4 separate regions of the Homo sapiens genome follow, and all the other regions are linked to region 3. The links come from fine-mapping of genetic effects on gene expression. A gene starts in region 3. Each other region holds a variant in brackets. All regions are shown on one strand. Distances are from middle to middle.

Region 1 (4,172 bases), 360 kb after region 3:
TCCATAATTGCTATGATCTAAAGCACCCCTTCTGCTTCTCACATCCCTCATCTTGTACTAGTCTCTTTCATGTAACCCTATTCATAACCATTTTCACTATCATATAGTTCACTTACTTATTTACTTTTCATTTTTTATCTTCTGCCAGATGAAATTTACAACACACAAGGATGGGTCTCTTATCTGTGGTTTACTACGGTGCCTGCAGCAGGATGTAATACATGAGAGACCAAAAACAATTTTTTTTTTTTTTTTTTGCTAATTGAATGAATGAAGGCAAGGTAATGCCTTGCTTTTTTTCCTATTAAAAATTATGAAACACCTGGGAAGAATAGCTTGTGTACACTGTCTTATGTCTTTGCCAGATACTTTGTCCATAACTTCAGAATTCTGTTTTTTGCCTTTACTATTTAACTGCAAGTGTCACCTTTTTACGGTTCATTGACCTCCACGTCATCAATCTATTTACCTACATTATATTTCTTTTGTATTTAATACTTGTTGAATTTACCTCTTTACTTGGCTTTTGTGGCTTAGAAATATTTTGATTCTCACGTAACTCTGAGGAATTATTCTCTAGCTTTAGTTCAGGTTATGCTTGCTGACACTTTAAAAATAAGTGGATGATTCTATTGTCACCTGTTTTTGCACTCTTTCTTTGGAAACTTTACCCAGCCTTGTGATTTATTTGATCCCAAGTTGCAGTGCCTTCATCTGAGGTCTAGGTGTGTATCTCCAAATGCTTCTGTGGATTTTTCAGGCATTTTCCAACTACATATGTAGTTAATTTCTAGTGAGGTTTAAATCCTAAGGGTGTGACCTTGGTAACTTATCTCAATCTCACATTCCTCAACTATAAAATTGAGTTATACCTATTTTGTGAGGATCCAAAGAGATAGTATATACAGTGCCTAGCCTAGAGCCAGCTACATGCTGATGAAAGCGCTCAATAAATGTTTTCCATTATTATAGTTTTATCCCCATTAGATATAGCCTTTGCCAATGTTGATATTTTTTGAGTGCATGATAATACAGCTAGTTCTCTATATAAAGAAACTATACTTTTGAATTGCACATTTACTTATGTACTAAAATTGTTTAAACAAAATTCTACTGTGTGTTTTAAGTTTGCATTGAAGTGTGCCTACTGACGATTGACAAGGAAAAAAAAAAGCCGTAAGATGGATATCAAAAAATAACATTAATGAGCTGCTAAAGCTAAAATTACAGGAACTTATGAAATTGGTTAAACATAAAAACCATTAAACTGTTTACTGAAGCTTCACAGATATACTGCAGCTAATGAGCATTTCTGCTATTTAAATAAGCCCAAATTGAACACACATTACATGGATACATAATTAGTCATGGCAGTCAGACACACATAGACTTACTTTTAAAGCTCTATTTAGGGAATCTTTTCCATTTGATTTATTTTGTTAATTAAAATATTTTTCAGTGTTCACTTATATTTTAATAATATTGTTTTCACAAGTAGTATAATTTACTACTGGTTTCCTATTTGTTTTTATTTTTCCGTTAAATGCAGCAAATGGGAATTTTATATGAAACATTTTTCTTAACCCCTTTCAGTAATTGTTTATATCATTTGATGACATAATTGAGCATTTAAAAAATTTTGTTTGCTGAGAAGTATACAAAAAATATTTCAATACGCTATTTTTTCACTATCTCATAATTATCAAGAAATATTAAGCACCCAAATGTGCATAGAATTATAATGATTATGGTCCAAACCAGATTAAAGGATGATCTATTCCTTCAAGCAGTTTGCAGTCTTAAAGAGATGGTATCATTGAATATAAATAAGCAAATCAAAGTACAGCATTTGGGAATCCAACAGAGAATTTGAAAACAATTCCCATATATTTACTTCAAGGACACTGACCTCCTGGAGGAGATCTCTTCCAGGTAAAATGAAATCCAATGTTCAAGGAGTTCAGCGTCTTAAATAGATAGAATTATTTCAGAGACATAAGCAGATCAAGGTGAAGTGCTTGGACTATTTTAATTCTGAATTGGTTTGTTGGTCAGTTTAGGAAGTGGAAATGAAACTTCCAATAGAATACAAATAACACAAAAGGAGTTGCTATAGGCTATTATTGACATCCATCGTTTCCATTCAACTTGGGGAGCCTAAGTTTATCCTGAATAGGGTGAGGGAGAAGATCAGATCTGTATTTTACCCTGACTGAATTCTACTAGCATATTCAAACTGAAAATTATCTAACCATAGCAGTAGGAAAATCAGATATTTAAATTGATCAAAAGAAATTCACTATGTGCCCATTCTTCCCTAGTCAGTATGTTTGTCAGTGTAGAAATACTTTTTCTCCACATGATGAACTGACT[A/CTCTA]ATTGTGAAAATAAGATCTACAAGAAAAATAACTAAGACAGAATAATATGAATGCTAAATAAATGGAATGGACAAATACTACATTTTTTGACCAAAAAACATATACTAGATTCCCCTTATATGCCAATTATATGCTAGATGCTGGGGGGAAGTAGCTGACTTAAATAAGTTATCTGAACTTAGGAGTAGTAGAGGTAAAACAAATACTTGAAATAAAGTCACATAGTGCCTAGCGTAACAGAAAGTCGTTAGTGGTTAATTCACTAGAAAGGGGGGGAAAAAGGTTTCATTGGAAAGGATGCTCTCAAGGCTGAATCTGTGAAGCTAGCCAAGACTAGAATTCTTTGCTGTTCCTGTCTTCACTTTAGTTATTCCCATGATCCCCAATGCTGAATTTTATGAGACTGTGGAGAGTCTATTTATTCTGGCTTTCTCTTGCCCCCACACCCAAAGTCAGAAGCAGCAGGACTTTGGAGATGAAATAATTGGATTCAAATACTGCCTCTGCCACCTCTTGGCTTTATTGAGGATGATAATATCCACCTTCAAGGGTTCTTTTGTGATCTAATAAGATATTCTATGGAAATATCCAGCAGTATGCCTGCCATGTACTAGAGATCCATAAGTGCTGATTGATTATTTTTTCTAACATTCTTCTTTAGTTGACAGTGATGTTAATGGAATGTAAGAAGTAACTAGGATAAAATTTTCATTGGATGGATTGGCACAACATGTTAACTGACTGGATGTTGATATATTTGGAAACAAGATTCATGGATTATACTAAGATTTGTAAGCTCTATTTTTAGTTTTGAAGAAGGGAATGGGACCAGATGCGATGGCTCATGCCTGTAATTCCAGCACTTTGGGAGGCCGAGGCTGGTAAATCACTTGAGGTCAGGAGTTTGAGACCAGCCTGGCCAACCTGCTGAAACCCCATCCCTACTAAAAATACAAAAATTAGCTGTGCGTGGTGACAAGCGCCTGTAATCCCAGCTACTTGGGAGGCTGAAGCACGAGAATCACTTGATCACTTGAACCTAGTAGGTGGAGGTTACAGTGAGCGGAGGTCATGCCACTGCACTCCAGACTGGGCGGCAGAGTGAGACTCCTCAAAAAAAAAAAAAAAAAAAAGAAAAGAAAAAGGGAATAGAAAATTTTCGCAACCTACTCATCTGACAAAGGGCTAATATCCAGAATCTACAATGAACTCAAACAAATTTACAAGAAAAAAACAAACAGCCCCATCAAAAAGTGGGCGAAGGACATGAACAGACACTTCTCAAAAGAAGACATTTATGCAGCCAAAAAACACATGAAAAAATGCTCATCATCACTGGCCATCAGAGAAATGCAAATCAAAACCACAATGAGATACCACCTCACACCAGTTAGAATGGCAATCATTAAAAAGTCAGGAAACAACAGGTGCTGGAGAGGATGTGGAGAAATAGGAACACTTTTACACTGTTGGTGGGACTGTAAACTAGTTCAACCATTGTGGAAGTCAGTGTGGCAATTCCTCAGGGATCTAGAACTGGAAATACCATTTGACCCAGCCATCCCATTACTGGGTATATACCCAAAGGACTATAAATCATGCTGCTATAAAGACACATGCACATGTATGTTTATTGCGACATTATTCACAATAGCAAAGACTTGGAACCAACCCAAATGTCCAACAATGATAGACTGGATTAAGAAAATGTGGCACATATACACCATGGAATACTATGCAGCCATAAAAAATGATGAGTTCATGTCTTTTGTAGGGACATGGATGAAATTGGAAATCA
Region 2 (4,172 bases), 840 kb after region 3:
TAATTTTTATCAGTTACTTCATTGAGTTTCCATTTATATAAAAGGGTACCTAAGGAAGATAAATCGTTTTTACTCATCCAAACAGCACCTTAAAATGTTGTTTTACAAAACATAGCACCAATTTGTGTGGACAGATATTCTCATGACTTGCTATAGCTATAGTTCTTGTTCAAATATATGTTTATTTCCTTACAGATCAGACTTTTTAAAAATATTAAGCAACTATCATGATTTACTCTGAAAATATTATTTTCATTTATATGTGCATAAAAGAGAAAAAATATAGTTGCATGCAGCTTCATTTGGAGGGGGGAATTTTTTAAACAACTATATATATATATACACACATATATAATTGAATTATAACATTGGTATGAGACAGGAAAAAAATCAAAATAATGCAATTCCTTGAAAATGTAAGATTTGTAGACCTGGCCTCAAGGGGTACCATGGGGGTGGAGAGACACTTATTGTCCCTTGTAATTTCCTCAGCCCCGACTTAGTCACTTCAAAGTAGTACACAGTCTGAGTAAAACTCTTGTATTTTTTTTGCAAGTGAGACTGCCAGGCAAGTTTCCTAAATCCCCTCTGACACCATGATCCACCCCTACGTAGCTGCCCTGAAATCCCTCCTAGATAGAAATCCTGTAACTTCCGCTGAGGTCTTACATGTCATTTTTCATCATTGAAATGTTTCTCTTTAATGGGAAAATAATCATCATATCTTTTTTTAAAAAAAACTCGGTCCTGAATTTCATACTAGGTATTCTTAATTGCTTATTCTACATTGCTTCATGGAAAGAAAAAGAGAGGAAGGGAGGGAGGAAGGGAGGGAGGGAATAGAGGAAGACGGGGGAAGGAAAATTGTAAAATTTCTCAAAATCCTAAGCCGTTTCAGAGCTGGAGGCCTGGCTGTGGTAATCTGGGCTCAATAGTGTCAGGGCCAGGACTGGACATCAGTTTTCCTGGCTCTCCATTCAGTGTTTTTCCCCTTCGTGGTGGACAATGACTAGAGTCAGCTTGGAAATCTTCAAAACTCAAAGCTGACTGTTAAGCTAATTTTTTTCTTCTGCTTTCTTCTAAAAACTACATGCATTATTTGAAATCCAAACAAATGTATTCATTGCCTCAGAATCTGACAGTAACACTTTTCCACTGTCAAGAACAAAGAGTGTGAAGAGGAAAAGGAGGACGTGTGAAAGTCCCCCAAAATCCACAGGTAGAAGACGCCCCATCCTGGTAGAACTGGAAAGACCCGAACTCTGCTCAGAACAAAGAAAACTAGAGAGTGACTATGTTATGACATATTTTCCTCACACAATGAAGAAAAATACCCCTAAGGAATTTTAAACATTGTGTTTTTAATTTAAAAGGATTTCTTTTCTCGCTCTTTTTTTCCTCCTCTGTCAGCTCAACTGTTGCTATAGTTGCACCATAGAGCTGGACGTAGTTGTCTCATAGTGTGGCTCCTCTGCAGCAGAGAAAAATGTTAACGCTAAAATGGGGACATTGTTGACCTTTGTGGTCAGTGACATCAATACCCTCTATTTCTGTTTGCAGGCTATACAGTTTGATCCAGAAACCCACCTGCCCACCATAACCGACACTTGTACAGGCTGTACTCTGTGTCTCAGTGTTTGCCCTATTGTCGACTGCATCAAAATGGTTTCCAGGACAACACCTTATGAACCAAAGAGAGGCGTACCCTTATCTGTGAATCCGGTGTGTTAAGGTGATTTGTGAAACAGTTGCTGTGAACTTTCATGTCACCTACATATGCTGATCTTTTAAAATCATGATCCTTGTGTTCAGCTCTTTCCAAATTAAAACAAATATACATTTTCTAAATAAAAATATGTAATTTCAAAATACATTTGTAAGTGTAAAAAATGTCTCATGTCAATGACCATTCAATTAGTGGTCATAAAATAGAATAATTCTTTTCTGAGGATAGTAGTTAAATAACTGTGTGGCAGTTAATTGGATGTTCACTGCCAGTTGTCTTATGTGAAAAATTAACTTTTTTGTGGCAATTAGTGTGACAGTTTCCAAATTGCCCTATGCTGTGCTCCATATTTGATTTCTAATTGTAAGTGAAATTAAGCATTTTGAAACAAAGTACTCTTTAACATACAAGAAAATGTATCCAAGGAAACATTTTATCATTAAAAATTACCTTTAATTTTAATGCTGTTTCTAAGAAAATGTAGTTAGCTCCATAAAGTACAAATGAAGAAAGTCAAAAAATTATTTGCTATGGCAGGATAAGAAAGCCTAAAATTGAGTTTGTAGAACTTTATTAAGTAAAATCCCCTTCGCTGAAATTGCTTATTTTTGGTGTTGGATAGAGGATAGGGAGAATATTTACTAACTAAATACCATTCACTACTCATGCGTGAGATGGGTGTACAAACTCATCCTCTTTTAATGGCATTTCTCTTTAAACTATGTTCCTAACAAAATGAGATGATAGGATAGATCCTGGTTACCACTCTTTT[G/A]CTGTGCACATACGGGCTCTGACTGGTTTTAATAGTCACCTTCATGATTATAGCAACTAATGTTTGAACAAAGCTCAAAGTATGCAATGCTTCATTATTCAAGAATGAAAAATATAATGTTGATAATATATATTAAGTGTGCCAAATCAGTTTGACTACTCTCTGTTTTAGTGTTTATGTTTAAAAGAAATATATTTTTTGTTATTATTAGATAATATTTTTGTATTTCTCTATTTTCATAATCAGTAAATAGTGTCATATAAACTCATTTATCTCCTCTTCATGGCATCTTCAATATGAATCTATAAGTAGTAAATCAGAAAGTAACAATCTATGGCTTATTTCTATGACAAATTCAAGAGCTAGAAAAATAAAATGTTTCATTATGCACTTTTAGAAATGCATATTTGCCACAAAACCTGTATTACTGAATAATATCAAATAAAATATCATAAAGCATTTTAAATATGGTCTTTTGCTGCCTCATTTGCAAATATAATTTCATATAAACAATTTAGATTTTGAGATAGAGCAGTTTTTGGTTAGTCCTATAGAGCATTCCATCCAGATATAAAACTCATGTTAGTTTAAGTAAAATAAGGGTGATAATAGTGCAGTCACTCAAATGTTTCACTTCCTGTCCTTCTTACCCATCTTTACCTACTGAATTAGATTCTATTCTGCCAAAAGGCATCTTTTACTGGGAACAGGCCAGGATTCTTGCAATGGCCCATGGGCAGGGACAAATGGAAAGTGGCAGCCTGCCTGCCTGTCTGAAAGTGCCAGTCTCACTGTAGGAAGTACACACCTCACTTAATATTACTGCTTAGATAGTTATGTGATATTATTGACTCATATAAATTGACTCTCTTTGCACTCTTGTCGTGGTGAGGGATTTTAACTTTTGGAGTTGGTAACACTTAGAAAACAGTTCCAGTAATCTAGAAAAGAGATTTACCAGGGCTACGTGGATGCCATCATAATGTCTTACCCCCTACCTGAATCTGATGAGAGTTTTTCACTCTGGGAGTTCTGGGAGTTTAGTAGCCTTCTGGGAATATTATAAAAGATATCCCATGTATGTACACACCTGAGTCCTCTTCAAGATACTGAATGCCAAATGCCAGGCAGAAATTTCCTTGATCGAGATTAAAGAAATAATCATGACCTTTGCATTTTTTTCTGAGAAAGAGAGGGCAAAATACTTTAACTGTTTCTGTAACTACTGTGGAGAACTACAAGTGACCAGGGTTAGGCCATGGCAATCCATGATTTTATACTAGTTTCTTCCTTACACACATTTCTTTCTGTTGTATTCACTTTCTATTTCATACCAAGAAGTCTTTCTTATCCATGTTGTGTGTAGAAAACATAACTCAATTTTACATATGTTATTTACAGAGAGACTCAGAATAAGGAAGAATGAAAACCACATTATTCCCATCCAGCAACACACCAGGAGCCATTGACCCTAACACACACATTCTCATGGCACCTTACCTCCAGACATGATTGGGGACATAAGACCGGACCAGAGAGTGTGGTTAGTGAGCACTTCCTAACGAATGTCTGAGAAGCTGTACTAAATGTTCTACATATATGATAGTTAATTTTATGTGTCAGCTTAGCTGGGCTGCAGTACCCAGACACTTAGTCAAGCATTACTCTCCATGT
Region 3 (4,172 bases):
TACACATGGGCCCCCTCTTCCTGGAGCTTCCTCTCTAAATAGAAGACATATATTAAATGAATCACATTCAAATAAATATTTAAACAACATTTGAAAAGTCTATGAAGACGAAATATAATGAAAAAGACAGAGTGGGTGTAATTTTGTTGGTGATGGGGTTAGATCATAAAGGCTTCAGTGAGACCTAAATGATGAGTAGAAGGGGAAGAAGAGCTCCAAGTGGAGGGCAATGTGCAAAGGTAGAGAAGTGGATGGAGGATGAGAAGATTACCTTGTGGTTGGAACATAATGAGTCAGGGCAAGAGTGGCGGAGAAGCGGAGTAGAGCAGGTTATTCAGCGGTTACTAGGGAGTTTGTATTATATTCTGACTGCAATGGACCATTGAAGGATTTATACCATGGGTACCTGGGTGTGTGGATGTATCGTTGTATGGCATGAGCCAGTTAATACTTTCTAAAGCTCAATCTGGTATGGATATGAGGTAAGAATAGAAGCTAGAATACCAGTAGCTTGGACCATGGTGGATGCAGCAAAATGGAGAAATGAATGATTCAAAATCTATTTAGGAGGTTGACTTCTGAGAGTTTGGGCATAGATTAAATGAGGCAATAAGGATAAAGGAGTCAAAGATGATTCTAAGGTTTCCATTTAACTTTCTAGTGTCTGTTAATATTTGATTCAAGAAAAATGTATCTGTCTTTTAGTAATTTCCAGGTTCTGGAAGGTAATCTGATGGTTTGTTCAGAGAAGCCTTCTCAACCACGCAAGGTACCCATACCCTAGTTATTCTGTCCTATTTTTCTTTTATCTTACAAGCAGGCATCACATTTTCTTACTTGCTTATTTTGAGTATAATCTCCATGACAGTGATGTGTATTCTTGAAGACTATATCCGGAGAACCTAGCACAGTGTCTGTGTCTGGCATATTGAAAATGCTCAATAAACATATTCGTTGAATAAAACGATGAATGGACTAATGAAAAAATAATAAGGGAGAAATACTTGACTCCAAGGTGTCACTACCTAGCCAAGTGCATGAAGGAGTGCCGCAAATGTCCTAACGGAAGTAGAAAGTGTTATGGTAGAAGAGAGGTGGGATGCATCTAACAGGGGTGGGGGGGGGGCGGGGAGAAAAGGAGAGAGGTCTGGAGTACACATATCCTCAAAAAACGAGGTGAATGTTTTCTGGATTGGGACCAACTCTACAGGAAATCTCTCCCTTCTCCTCAGCAAGCTCTAGAGCAAAAACGAAGAGCAACTTTTCAAAAGAGTTTCACGTTTTAGAATAAAAAATATTTAAAAAAATAACCATTAAAATGAGACTTTCCTGCAAAAAGACAACCTTGATTATGTACCACCTGCAGCACTTCCTGTATGCTGCTGCGGGCTGTGGATGTTTTTGCTCGCCTCCCTCCCCTCCCCGCTGGGGCTGTGAACTCTCAGAAGACCGGTGCTTTGGTATCCTCCACTGCAGCTCAAACCCCGCCCACCTACTTGGTGGATGGATGGAGGAACATCTACTATTTCATCCTTGAGGAGTTCCTGAAAATGCAGTTGCCCCTCAAACAATGTATCTACATCTCGCGGGGTTTCTGTGGAAGAAAAGAAAAAGTGCAAGTTGTTGCTTGGAGCGCGGACTGCTTTTACCTTTGCCTGGGGATCCCTCCTATCTGGCCCCGCCTGCCTAGCTCTGTTTTTAGCAGTTTAGAGATTAAAGGCCAGTCCCCAGAGCGGGTGCTCTACTCCCTCCCTCCCTTCTGCTTGCAGGCTGGGGCGCGGAGCGGGCTGAACTGGGAAGGCCGGGCTGCGGCTGCCGTGCCTGGCGCGGGAGCCGCAGGACCGAGAGCGCAGCCCCGCCCCGGGGGCGTTGCCGCCCCGCGCCCGCTCCGCCCCCGCGCCGCCGGCCCTAGTCTGCCTGTTTTCGACTCGCGCTCCGGCTGCTGTCACTTGGCTCTCTGGCTGGAGCTTGAGGACGCAAGGAGGGTTTGTCACTGGCAGACTCGAGACTGTAGGCACTGCCATGGCCCCTGTGCTCAGTAAGGACTCGGCGGACATCGAGGTACGGACTTCGCGCCGGCTCGTCGGTGGTGGCGGGGTGGTGGGGAGTGCTCTGCGGGTAGGTGCCGGGGAGGCCCCCGCGGCCCCCGCACCCCGGAGAGTGAGAGACGCGGGAAAGTTTCCCCCGTGGGAGCTCTGCGGGGGAGCGGAGGAGCGCGGAGCCACAGGCCCGCGTGGGCAGGCGGGGAGCTCAGGGGAGGACTTTCCGCTACTGGAGGGGTTGCCCTTTGCGTCGGGACCTGTTTACTTCGGAAGAGATTTCAGGAAGCCTGTCTTGTCCTCCTCTGAATGTCAGTGACTGAAGAAGCACTGGAGTTCCAGAGAGGTGGACTCTAGGGGGTAGGAGTGCCCATTTCCCACACGTTCTACCCCTTCACCTCCTGTATGTCGTTTCTGGACACCTCCACTGCCCCCATTTCCAATAGCTGAATCCTGCTATTTGCAAAGGTGAAGCATAGAAATAAAACATCTGTGTGTCAGCTGTAGCAGTCGCCTCTAGTCATAGTATTGTTTATGAAATAATTTAACATGGAGAGAATGGAACGAAGTATTCAGAACATGAAAAATGCAGTGCCCTCAGAAAAACTAACTGTATTTTTCTCTCCTCTCAACGGTTTTTGATTCCCTCTTGCACTCCGTTTCTGTTAAAAAAAATCTTTTTTTATGTAAATAAGGTCCTACCTGAAACGACATGGCATTTCCTTTCTCTCTAGTATCTTAATATATGCGATGAAAAGGATTTAATTATCAACAGTGATTTTACACATACTAAACCTAGGTCAGCACTTTTGAGCTAAGACAAACTGATTTTTAGTTTTCTGTTTTGTTTGGGGCTTTTCTTTATTTGAGTCTTCTACTCTGGTAGAAAATTATGTGTGTGTGTGTTTTCTTTAGAAATAACAAAATTTTCCTTTCGTCAGTCCTTTTGGCGGCTTAAGTAAAAGTTTTGCAAACCACCTGTTTGCAAAATAGCTGCTTTTGCCACATTTTGCCTCCGTAATTGAAGAAACTTTATATTCTGGGAGGAAGTAGTCCTGTTTTCTCCAGGCTCCATAACTTGGTTTGAAAAATCATTTTAGTAACAAGAGCCAAAGTGTATTATGTGGACATCTCTGGTTAGTTTACTTTTGGTTTCTGTTTTGGAGAGTTGACTTTTTGATATTGAGCAATATGATATATTTAACAAATAGTTGTTCATCTGTGTGCAGGATAATAGATACTTGTCTTTTTCTATATTTCATTTAGGGTAGTCTATTCCTTTTTGGTCCTTGTGACTTTGACTTAACTTTTTAAAAAATTTTATTTACTAAGTCGAAAAACAAGCTTCTGACAGTATTAAGGCAGTATTGATTTAAGATATCGGAGTTGACTTAGGATGGGTGGCTTTTGGCTCTTTAATTTCAGAATGGTGTGTTATCTGCTTAACTGATTTCTTTCTCTGCAGTTGTCTTCGAAATCAGTTCTTACATTCTACTGAGGAGAAAGATGCCAGTGAAACATTGAATGCCAAGCTTGATTTCATATATTGTTTCAACTAAGAACATTTAAGAAGCCCATCCTTCCCACTCCCTCCACTCAATTCAACCTTAGTCTATATGGCCAGTTTGCCTAATATTACTTTTAATCTAGATTGCTGGTGTTCAAACACCTTCAGCTCTTATGTAGTTCATATGTGCAACACTTTAATCAGTAACATCTTTCATCACTCACAGCACCTTACTTTTCCCTCAAAGTAATACCCGTGATTCATGAGCTAGAATACCATGAAAGAGCATGAAATTAATCATTAAAATATAATGCAGTGAGGAAAAATACATTAAGCTTAGGGGAGCACATTCAAGCATAAATGCCTCAGTTGATCCTATTGATTTACCAAAGTTCATTTTTGTGTTGAAGAATTAGAATGAATTATAAAGGCTCAGTTTTCCATCAAATTTGAATGCTTTTCTTGAACAAATTCATTACAACCATTGTCTAGAGATCTGATTGTGATCATTGTTTTAGCTTCAAATACATGGATAAGCAAGTAATATTTTAAAAATATTGGTATGAAGCAGTTAATGAATGTGATAAGAACACATTGATAAATGTGAAAAGTACTTGACAATTGTT
Region 4 (4,172 bases), 51 kb after region 3:
TTTTTCTGTGATTTTTTTTTTTTTTTGCCTGTATTTCTCCCTTCTCCAAAAAGCCTCAACATGATGCCTTGGTCTTGGAGAATTTTTATCATAGGATAGAGGTTTGTATTGTCGTGGGGAATTCCACTCTGGCCGAAGCTCTCTTGTGTGAGCTCCTGCAGGGCTACTAACTGCTAACCTGAAATGTGTTCCCTCTCTTAGAATGGCCCAAGAGTGAAATATTTATTCTCCGTGTCTGACAAGGAAATTTCTCTTGGGAGAAGAAGTTGTTCTTATAGACTACGTATTAGTCCAAGAATATTGAGAAGGGATCCAAAAGATCTGGAACCAAATAGATTGAATTTGTTTACACAGAAAATCTTTGCATAATCATAAATATTAAACTGGAATTGTATGATGTATTATAGGTCAATAAGTAGTATATAATAAAGCAGATGTGTGTTAAGACTATTTCTATGAAAACAAAATATGTATATTTTAAAAGATATTAATGAAGCATATTACTGTATTTGCAAATAAGAAACATCTTTGCATATGGGAAAATACAGTGCTCTGAACAAAAGAAATCAGCAAAATTGTCTTTAGAGTCTAATGGTATATTTTACCTTTGCAAAACATTTATTTGGTGCTCATAGCAAATAAATATGTGAGTTTTGCTGTTTTCCCGAATGGGCATACAATGGCAGCTGTCTTTCTAATCGTTCCCCTATTCAAACACTAATCGGTGGAACCCACGTAAAATGCTAGAGGCCTGAATAGGTAGACAATGGCAGCAGCGTTTTTAATCACAGTCCTATTCATGCACTAATCGGAGTGATGATTAAAGGACATTAGAGGGAGCACTTTGACATCTGATCCTTTGAACTGACGTCTGTGCAGGCTGCACTCCATAGAGCTCACTTGGCCAAACTGATTTCCTTAAATAAAGTGCTGTGATTTCCAATGTAGGAAATATTACATTAGAGCCTATTGAAATGATTAGGAATTGAGGAGCTTTTCTTTAGGTGGGAATGTGGTGTATGCTGTATACTCACAAAAGTGAGATCATTAATATTGCATGTACTACTTTGAATATCAGGGACCACAGAGAAATAGCATGAGAAACGCCTTCCTGCAGTCATGCACTTAAAATGAATATGAACAAAAATGTGGAACTCTGCTGTCATAGCTCTCCGTTATTGAAGTTTATGAATTTTGAAATATTTGTATTTTTATATAACACGATAAAGATCCACACATCCTAACTGCATTTCATATTTTTGTTTTCATTAAGCCAGGATATTTTTAATGTTACCTATCTTGAAGTTGCTTTAATTACAAAAAAAATGTGTTATACCCTATTTGCATGGTCATGCTTTGATTCAGTAGTCATTAGTGAGACAGAATGGAATATTTTATTTTCTCTTTTCTTTCAAATTTCTAATATCTATTTAGATTTTACTAACCTATTCCCCAGAATATTTCATGTGATTTATCCTAAAAATGTTAATATCTATTCAGCATTTGCAAATTGAATCAGTAGTTAAAATTCCAACATCAATATTTGAATATGGAGCTCCAAATATCAATAACTGTATATACTACATTTATGTGTAATGTATGTAGGGGAAGAAAAACCTTTTCCTTTAACCTCTTATGTTCAGTGGCTGGGGCATGTGAATTAATCTGACAGAAGACAGATTGACAGGAAAACATGCATACACATTGTATTTGATGTTCATATTTTAATTTATATGTGCACAAGACCTTCACATGAAAGAAATGAAGACAGAAAGAAGGAGTTAAACCCAGGGGCTTACATACCATTTTAATAAAGGGAGATAAATCGTGCAGAAGTGATAACACAAAGGAAAAGGGGTTTGGGATTCTAGGGGTGATAAATTGTGGGAAGATAAATATATGAGGGATACCAATGGAAGATAAGGGCTATTTTAGCAAGGTTTGTTTGTGCAAATCCATCTTGGTGCCA[A/G]CTTTCTGTATCCAGTGATAAAGGATTGTTCTCCTCCTGGTATGGAAGAAGGGAGGGGAACACCTTCACAAAAGGAAATTTATGTCTGCTTTTAGGCAGATAGGGAGAGAGCAAAGAGCAAAGAGCTCTTTCTGCAGTTTGTTGTTTCTTAAGTGCTTTCAGCTCAAAATGGTCCTTATACCAAGGTGACATATTTTGCGGTGACATTCTGACCCCCTCACATACAGCCTCTTTGGATTGTTTCCTTTGTTTATTATATTTCTTATTTATAGGATTCTTTCCTAGAAGATAGGAATATTTATCACAAATTCTGGATAAATTTGACTGTGATGTATACTTCTGAAGGTACCTACCACACAAATCCACAAGTTTATTGGCATAGACCCTTGAAGCTTTCTTTGTACCACCTAACTCTGGCCCTCATTCTGGCCACTTGAATCTGATGGAGAGAACTGACCGAGGCTGGGGAAATCAGATTCTCTCCTAGATATCTATGACAAGAGATTCTTTTTCATTCTGGGCTGTTTGAGCAGGAATAAAATGAAAGCTTGGTGCTGCAGGGTGGCCATTTTCCACTTGCAACATGTACTGAAAATCAGAAAAGGCCAGGCTGAGGAGAGAGAAGATAGAGGCAGTCATAGAAAAAGAAGCTGCGCAGGTTTCTCATGGCTTTGTGTAGGGAGAGTTTTGCAACTTTGTGTTTTGTGAGATACTCTTGGATAGACTCTTTTTATTGGCTTAAACTATGTAAATCATGTTTGAGATATAGACAACCAAAAAATCCTAAGGAGCACAGTGGTATATGTCAAGTTTTAATGACCTAGATAGAGGTGTTTTATTTTTATGGGATATGTTAAAATTACGATTAAGTTGTGTGAGGCAGTAGGGTATAATATAATCAGCTCTGACTCAGAGACACATGCCCAAACTGAAATCGTCTCTACATTTACTAACTTGATCTTGGGTGTGATTCTTCACCTTAACTAGCTAGCTCTAGTTTCTTTCACTGTTAAATAGAAATCTTGATAATTATGGTAATCTAACTACATTATTTTGAGAGTTAAATGAACTGAGGAATTTTAAAAGGGTATAATACAAAGTTTAGCACATGGTAAATGCTCACTAAGTAGTACTTTTTATTATTAATATTTTAGTTTTACCTAAATATTGGTAATGACTGGTAATTGGTAATTCAGATGATTAATCATTTAGCTTTGATTTCTTCGAATAATATTTTATCTTTTAGTAATAAATTACAGATATCATTTGAAGTCTTTTGTGATAGTTCTTGTTATCAAGATAGTATGTTATCAAGAGTGTATGTGAGAACCCTTCCTTTATGGCCTACTGTGGCCCCATTTGTCAAGGTATTTAATGCCGTTGACTCCATTTAGATTCTGACAACTTTTACACTTTTTGTTTCTCTTCTTCAATTGTTTTCTTCAAAGATTTATGGTTTTCATGATATAAATAGTTTAACTCCTTGGAAACATTTGTTCTTAATTATATATTTTTTAGCTACTTGTAAATGGGATTGTTTTCTTGATTTCTTTTTTTTTTGGGTGGTTTATTGTTAATGTGTAGATATGTTACTGAATTTAGTATGTTGATTTTGTATTTTGTAAATTTACAGAATTTGTTTATTAGTTTGAACTATTTTTGGTGTTGGCTTTCGGGTTTTCTATACATAAGACCATGTCACCTGCAAACACACAACTGAACCTTTTCCTTTACGTTTTGGATGCCTTTTATTTCTTTCTCTTGCCTAATTGCTCTGGCTAAGACTTTCAGTACTATGTAAAATAGAAATGGTAAAAGTGGGTATCCTTGTCTCGTTCCTGATCTTAGAGGAAAAGCTTTCAGCTCTTCACCATTGAATATGATGTTCGTTGTGAGCTTGTGATACATGGCTTTTATTGTGTTCACGTACATTTTTTCTACACCTAATGATTACAGTATTTGTATAATGAAAGGATATTCAGTTTTGTCCAATGTTTTTTCCTGCATCAATTGAGATGATCCTATGGTTTTTGTCCTTTATTCTATTAATGTGGTATATCACACTTATTGATTTGTGTATGTTGAACCATCCTTGCATCCTGGGGGTAAATAATGCTTGATTATGGTGAATGGTCCTTTTAATGTGCTGTTGAGTTTGGTTTGTTAGTGTTTTGTTGAGTAGTTAATTTTGCTTTTTCATTTA

Direction of the effects. Alleles are on the strand shown, and positions count from the first base shown. SD is a standard deviation of normalised expression in the study named. Not every link is listed here.
For the expression in esophagus muscle of the gene that starts at base 1,911 in region 3, allele A in region 1 goes with a higher level than allele CTCTA (moderate effect, 0.43 SD a copy in GTEx).

What was found. PIP is the estimated chance that this variant, and not a neighbour inherited with it, causes the effect. A credible set is the group of variants that fine-mapping cannot tell apart.
Region 1: its variant is the best candidate, but not a certain one, in a credible set for the expression of DPYD in esophagus muscle (GTEx, PIP 0.59).
Region 2: its variant is the best candidate, but not a certain one, in a credible set for the expression of DPYD in whole blood (TOPMed, PIP 0.61).
Region 4: its variant is the best candidate, but not a certain one, in a credible set for the expression of DPYD in whole blood (INTERVAL, PIP 0.87).

The regions. Positions count from the first base shown.
Region 1 is chr1:97,556,644-97,560,815 of GRCh38, reverse strand. All of the region lies in intron 11 of DPYD (dihydropyrimidine dehydrogenase), which reads left to right. Among named protein-coding and RNA genes, the nearest start is that of DPYD-AS2, 240 kb to the left of the region's middle. The variant A/CTCTA (reference allele first, on the strand shown) is at 2,374.
Region 2 is chr1:97,076,535-97,080,706 of GRCh38, reverse strand. It overlaps DPYD (dihydropyrimidine dehydrogenase), which reads left to right. Exons shown (of 23, transcript NM_000110.4): 23 at 1,561-2,964. The coding sequence ends at 1,731. Among named protein-coding and RNA genes, the nearest start is that of DPYD-AS1, 17 kb to the left of the region's middle. The variant G/A (reference allele first, on the strand shown) is at 2,499.
Region 3 is chr1:97,918,773-97,922,944 of GRCh38, reverse strand. DPYD (dihydropyrimidine dehydrogenase) reads left to right here and starts at 1,911. Exons shown (of 23, transcript NM_000110.4): 1 at 1,911-2,061. The coding sequence starts at 2,023. RefSeq lists a silencer at 1,706-2,105.
Region 4 is chr1:97,867,444-97,871,615 of GRCh38, reverse strand. All of the region lies in intron 2 of DPYD (dihydropyrimidine dehydrogenase), which reads left to right. Among named protein-coding and RNA genes, the nearest start is that of DPYD, 52 kb to the left of the region's middle. The variant A/G (reference allele first, on the strand shown) is at 1,970.